Homo sapiens: one gene and its partner. The protein of the gene in region 2 purifies or fractionates together with the protein of the main gene of each other region. This does not show direct contact. Each region holds a gene or a part of one and is shown on either strand. Other genes may lie near its edges.

What was found. Proteins that work in one complex are often made in the same cells at the same time.
Region 1: the proteins of CMTM6 (region 2) and TMBIM4 purify together in Homo sapiens (co-immunoprecipitation; one large-scale study listed by IntAct). This does not show direct contact.

Annotation. Positions count from the first base shown.
Region 1 is NC_000012.12:66,149,469-66,153,125, reverse strand, and holds part of TMBIM4 (protein lifeguard 4), read left to right. Parts: intron 1-749; coding exon 750-855; intron 856-3,657.
Region 2 is NC_000003.12:32,496,265-32,499,921, reverse strand, and holds part of CMTM6 (CKLF-like MARVEL transmembrane domain-containing protein 6), read left to right. Parts: intron 1-3,657. UniProt on the Homo sapiens protein: Master regulator of recycling and plasma membrane expression of PD-L1/CD274, an immune inhibitory ligand critical for immune tolerance to self and antitumor immunity.

The sequences.
Region 1 (3,657 bases), on a different chromosome or scaffold from region 2:
AGGGTTAAACCCTTGGTAAAAATTAAGAATTTTTACTGCATGCCATTTTTAAAAGTCTTAAGTTTTAAAAACTTTATTAGACTATATTCCCTGTGCTCAAAGCCTAAGACAGTACTTGAAAAATAAATGTGCGTTCATTTTAGTTTTGGCTCATGACTAGCATAATTTCACCAAGAAGTTTTCAAAAGAGCTCCACATGATTCATCCCTGATCTTTAATCAGGGATGAATCATAATTATTTCCATGATACAGTTTTGTTATATTAAAGGAAAGGAGAACTAATGAATATTTTCATAGAAGTAGAGAATTTCTGTCCTCCCTTCCCTTCTCCCCACCAAAGGGGAGTCTTGAACTATTAGTTTGCTATGTGAGGTAAAATTCTTTAATTTAAATTACAGCCATATGGCAAATATCCTAAGAAAGTAGTTGTTATTTTTAAATTTCTTTATTGTATAATATTAGTATACTAATTGCAAACATTATTCAAATGTGATAGAAGTTTATATGGTAAAAAGAAAAAGTTTCCCCCATTCATTTTGGGCTCTTTTCTTTGTCTTGAGGCTCCTTTCTACCTTGTACTCCTCAAATTTTCCAGATATAAAATAATTTGATAGTTTGGTGTGGATCATTCCAGATTTTTTCCCCTGTACTTTCATAAACATATAAAATAGATAAATTTTATTAAATTTGATAATACTGCTCATGCTATTTTTTCTTTAACTTGAAACACTTAATATTATGTCTTTCAGTCCTGCCTTAATTTTGCTGTTTGCCCTCGGATCTCTGGGTTTGATTTTTGCGTTGATTTTAAACAGACATAAGTATCCCCTTAACCTGTACCTACTTTTTGGATTTGTGAGTACTCTGACTTTCTCTATTCCCTTAACAATTATTCCTGAGTTTTAAATAAATGCATATATAATACATATATAACAACGGCAGAACAAAATTAATGAGTTTTTTTTAGAGTACTTTAGGAAATTAATTGTAATTTTATAGTCTTTTAAAACTTTTAACAGTTTATTAGTTTCAAATATTAGTATGTAGTGGAAAAAATGCTGAATTGGAATAGATGACCTGGCTTTGCTGCTATCTGATTATGTGACACTTGGCAAGGCATTTATCCTTTCTGTGTCTAAGTTTTTTCATATGTAAAATGAGAATTTTAAAGTAGATAAATCCTTGTGATACCTTCTACCTCTAATATTCTATTATTTTCTTTGGAGAAAATTATGTTGTGGCTTTAATTTCATAAAATTCAAATTCTTTATTGTTAACTCTTCTTTGTTATTATCTTATCACTCTGATCTTTTAAAGAACCATTTTGCTCAAATTATGTGCATTAGTAACTTTTTTCAAAATTATAGTTGGGAGAACCCAACTTTAAGTCATGTATGTTGAGATATTTGTGAAAATTAAAACCCAAACTACCACTTATGAAAATTCAGTTTAGAATATGACCAGAATAAGGGGATAAGCCTCAAGTTATCTGTCTAAAAAATTATTTTGCCTCTTCTCATCCAGTATGACTAGATTCTAACCTAAAAATTTACTTCAGAACATTCCAAAGTAATATTAAGAATACTTGGGTGGGTGCAGTGGCTCATGCCTGTAATCCCAGCACTCTGGAAGGCTGACGTGGGCAGATTGCTGGAGTCCGAGAGTCTGAGACCAGCCTGGGCAACATAGTGAGACCCCACCTCTACAAAAAAATACAGAAATTAGCTGGGCATGGTGGTGTGCACCTATAGTCCCAGCTACTTGGGAGGCTGAGGTGGGAGGATCACTGTAACGGGGTTGCGGGGTGGAGGCTGCAGTGAGCTGAGATCACGTGACTAAACTCCAGCCTGAGTGACAGAGTGAGACCCCATCTCAGACAAACAAAAAAAGAATACTTGTAGTCAAATACGAGTGGGAAAAGCTATTGATTAGATTAAAATGCTTTAAACTAAAAAGTTTATGAATTCTGATAATGAGTTTGTGTTAAAATGAAAAGCTGATGACTTTGAAAGTTTCAGTAATAGGAAAGATTATTCATTTAAATCTTAAGCTCTTTTGTTTGCAAGATTGTCAATTCTAACTCAAGTTATTGCAAATAACAAGGAGTTTAAGGATGTAAGAGCTTGAGAACCCACCAACCCAAATCCTCTTCAAGAAGATGAACTGGAGAACTGGAGGAAGATTCCAGAAATGATGATATCATAGGAAATTCAGTGACAAATGTTTGTGTTCCCCTCTCCCTTGTTCTATTACATCTCTTCTCTACCTCAGTTGTCCTTATACATTGTTTTCCCTTTTTCTATCTTTAATTTTTATATGACCCATTGTTTGCCCCCAGAGTCATTTAACTTTAGCTCCCACTGCCATTGCTTCAATCTCTGAGTTCAGATTCCTGAGTCAGAAAGAATCTGGTCCAGGCGTGGTGGCTCACGCCTGTGTGATCCCCGCACTTTGGGAGGCCGGGGCAGGCATGTTGCTTGAGTTCAGGAGTTCGAGACCAGCCCGGGCAACATAGTGAGACCTTGTCTCTGCAAAAAATACAAAAATTAGCCAGATGTTATGGCACGTGCTTGTAGTCCCACTACTTGGGAGGCTGAGGCAGGAGGATCACTTAAACCGGGAGGTGGAGGTTGCAGTGAGCTGAGATTGCGCCACTGCCCTCCAGCCTCAGTGACAGAGTGAGACCCTGTCTTAAAAAGAAAGGGGGGTGGGAGGGAGGAAGAAAGGAAAAGGAAGGAAGGAAGGAAGAAAGGAGAGAGAAAGAATCTGATTGGTACACTTGGTTGTTGGCACAGGTCACATTGTAGGCTGTTAGTCAATATATGGGTTGCCAGGCCTTGGGTAAGAGCCAACTCCTGGCCTAGTCAGCTATGTCTCAGGAAAGAGGAAGTATAAAAAAAAAGACGGCCATATAGAATTCCTCTTCGCATCTACATGTAGCCTCCTCTCAGAAAGACTGATTTCTGTGTGGGAAGAGGGTGTGGTTCAACTTTTGCCCAGCAGGGAGAGGTCCCACTAGAAAAGTATCAACCAAATGCTTATAGGCAAGATAATCACTGATTGTTAAATCTATTCATCATGCCCATAGCTAAAAATGGTTTAACAAATAAGTATGTACAATACATTTCCTTAAATTACTCAGGGACCTTTAACGTTAGGAGTTTTTTGGTCCTGATCCACCAAGATAAGAAAGGAGGTGAATCTTATCTTGCCCTAGTAGGAGTGTGTGTGTGTGTGTATGCATGCACATAGACAGACAGACAGATAGATAGATAGTCCTCAACTTAGAATCATTCACCTTAATGTTTTCCACTTTTATGATGGTGTCAAAGCAATATGCAACCACGAAATTTCAGACTTTAAGCATTGGTGATTCTTTAACCAAAGACACTCTGAGCTACATTTTTTACTTACGATATTTTCAACTTACAGTGGGGTGTATTGGCATGTAACCCCATTGTAACTCGAGGAGCATGTGTGTATATGTTTTAAAGGGACATTATCATGTTTTCCTAGTCTTATCTTAACTCTTATTTATACCATCCTGTTTCCTTAGATACTTGAATGTGTATGGGATTTCTTTCCTAAAATCTTGTCATAAATAGCAAGAATATAGTATAATCATGTTGCCCTGCCCCCCCCAAAAAAATTTCTTTC
Region 2 (3,657 bases):
TTAAGGTTTTTTTTTTTTTTTCAAACCTCTGAGGCTCCATGGGGTTTGCTATTACAGAACTGAATTGAATATTGAAGGGATAGAGAGTGGAGCCTGTACACAGAGGAGATTAGAGATAAAAGAACGTAACTTCTCTATCTCTTGAAGTTAACATAGCTGTGTCTGCCATTTAGATATGACCTAAGTTTTGTTAAAACCCTAAGCATCCCCCAACTACCATCCACCCTTCCAGAGCTTAAGAAGAAATACTCAGTTGAGAATTTAGTGTAAGGAGTTACTGGAGTCCTAACTTTATGCAGTTTTTCAGTTTATACTATCCTTAGATTTGTCCACATGTTCATGTTTTATTTTGTGAATGTTTTTGAGGGAGTTTTTGTTTTAAGGGGAGAATTGACGTTTGGTAACCTAATTGCTTGCTGATACGCTGGTGCAGTGACCTAAATATGTGGAATTTTCTGTGCAACAAGCTCCACATTGTATCCATGCTGTCAGTTGACTATCCTGATAGCTGCACAGTACTGGAATTCTAGTCGCTCATCTGGCAAGCAGTTTTAGAAATCGCCAGTGATTTTTCAATATATTACATTATAAATAATGTTACCCTATAAGTACCAAGAAACAGATTACTTGGAAGCATTTCTTATATTGATGCTCTTTTCATTATTTAAATATGAAAACTGATGTATAGTAAATTGAAATGTTCTATTTTTACCTTGAGGAAGATCCCGTAATGTCAGCAAATTATATCTGAACCTTTGTAAGAGTAAATATTTGCCTAAGGCAAGGGAGGCCTGGCCTGTTTCTTCAGACCAATGGATTTTTAAATTTGAACTTTACTTATAACTACAAAGTTTTTAATAGTAAAGTTCATTAATTTATAATTCATATCATTTTGTAGATGGAGCTTTATAATTAATGGCAAACATTTAAAAGTTCTTTTTATAAAATATAAGTAGTAGACTGTTAAATTAATGGAGAATTCGTATTTAATATAGTGACCGTTTTAAGGAACACTTGAAATTTCAGAAAAGGTAGTGAAACTGAGGCCGGGTGCGGTGGCTCATGCCTGTAATCCCAGCACTTTGGGAGGCCGAGGTGAGCGGATCACAAGGTCAGGAGATAGAGACCATCCTGGCCAACATGGTGAAACCCCGTCTCTACTAAAAATACAAAAATTAGCTGGGTATTGTGGCGTGCACCTGTAATCCCAGCTACTCAGGAGGCTGAGGCAGGAGGTGGAGATTGCAGTGAGCCAAGATCGTGCCACTGCACTCCAGCCTGGCAACAGAGCGAGACTCCATCTCAGAAAAAAAAAAAAAAAAAAGAAGGGGTAGTGAAACTGAAATGGAGAGATAGAGGCAGGATAGTAATTATCCAGTGTTTAAATCACCAGAACTGTAAGATCATGTTTTAGTCACTGAGACTTCCCAAATCTGTTGATGTTAGCAAATTGTTTTTAATGTATGATTTAATACATTAAAGGAAATATACAGAACTGTGGGTTTAACTTCAAAAAGCCAGTCTTACAGGGAAGACCTACACAAACATACATACTCGTAAAAGGAATTTAACAAACAGTATTTCATGGGGAGAGAGGAAGTACAGAGTGGGAGTCAGAGACTTGGGTTCTTGTCTGTGCCGAGCTAACTTGGGGCTTAACCTGTCAGTAGCTTAATTCCATCTTTGTAAACGTGGGAGTGGGAGACTATATCCGCTAAGGGCCCTCCTGACATTAAAAGCTTGATAATTCTCTTAATTATATTTGGGTAAAATTTTATGTCATTAGAAGGAGTTACATTGGGTATACAGTTGTTAAGTACTTAGCTTAATATTCAGTAAGCAATATTTAGTATGATGACTTCATGCTATTAAGAACAAAACTGTTTACCAAAAAATAATAATTGAGCCTTTTTACTTATGGGTTATGTTTACCATGAATTTCTTAGCTAATTCAGTGACATTTTTTCTCTCTTCCTATTTTTGACCACTTTGGCATTTAATGCTGGTGACCACTCATTTCTCGAAATTGTTCCTTCAGCTTTTACACTTTTTTTTTTTTTTTTTGAGACGAAGCCTCGCTCTGTCACCCAAGCTGGAGTGCAGTGGTGCAGTCTCGGCTCATTGCAACCTCTGCCTCCCAGGTTCAAGCAATTCTCCTGCCTCAGCCTCCTGAGTAGCTGGGACTACAGGCGTGCACCACCATGCCCGGCTAATTTTTGTATTTTTGATAGAGACGGGGTTTCATTATGTTGGCCAGGCTGGTCTCAAATTCCTGACCTCGTGATCCACCCGCCTTGGCCTCCCAAAGTGCTGGGATTACAGGCGTGAGCCACCGCGCCCGGCCAACTTTTACACTTTTTTCTTTTTAATACAAGAAAGTGTCTGCTTACCAAAAAAAAAAAAATCAACTAAAAATATTAAAATAAAACCACTTTCCCACCCCTCACACTACCAGGTGTCACGGTATGAGTAACAGTTTGGAGTATGTTTACTTGCTGCTTTTTAAGGAGTTTTTTCTTTCTTTTTTTTTTTTTTTTTTGAGACAGAGTCTCGCTGTTGCCCAGGCTGGAGTGCAGTGGTGCGATCTCGGCTCACTGAAAGCTCTGCCTCCTGGGTTTACGCCATTCTCCTGCCTCAGCCTCCCGAGTAGCTGGGACTACAGGCGCCCGCCACCACGCCCGGCTAATTTTTTTTGTATTTTTAGTAGAGACGGGGTTTCACCATGTTAGCCAGGATGGTCTTGATCTCCTGACCTCGTGATCCGCCCACCTCGGCCTCCCAGAGTGCTGGGATTACAGGCGTGAGCCACCGCGCCCGGTGTAGGAGTTTTCTTTTTTTAAAAACACTTCCTGTGGCTTGCTGATAAGAAGTTAGTTGCTCTTTTCCCTCCTACACTCGGAACTGTAGAATTCCTTTAGGCCCCACCCAATCCTCTGTTCCTCCTGTTTTCTAACCTACTAAACCAGACAGGTGTTCCCTCCTGCCTTCATCTAAACATCCATATTCCCTTGCATGATCATCACACAACCACACCCAACTCCTAAACCATTTTTTTCTTCATCCCCATCCAGTTAGGTCAGTTGCCTTATTATCATTTTTGGATTTACTATGCAAATTCTTGCCCTTATGAATATGTTCTTTTTCATCCTCCACCTAGAATTAGAATGTCCTCTGTCTATCCAGGTTCTGTTTGTGTCTCTGCCTGGTTTGAGTCCTGCTTTTCCACTCATCCTTCTCCGGCTCCTTCGAACATTTTCTTGAGATTTTCTAACCTACATATAATGAATGCTCAGTTAATGTGGTATAAAATATATTGTTATTATTGTTTCTTGTACATTGAGCTTATTACTCCATCATTTGTATCTTCCTATACGTAGAACAGTGTTGGAGTGTTGCTAGTTCAAGTACACTTTGAGCTAGCAATTGCATAATGCTGTGGGAGCTTACAAAGGTTAGTAGCCTCAGAGATGGGTAGGCAGAGAATTTTTTTTCTTTTTTTTTTGGTAGAGATGGGGTTTCACCATGTTGCCCAGGCTGGTCTCAAACTCCTGAGTCCAAGCAATCCTCCCGCCTTGGCTTCCTAAAGTGCTGGGATTACAGATGTGAGCCATCGCATCTGGCCGACAGAATTTCATATTGACTATAGCTTGTAGTGCC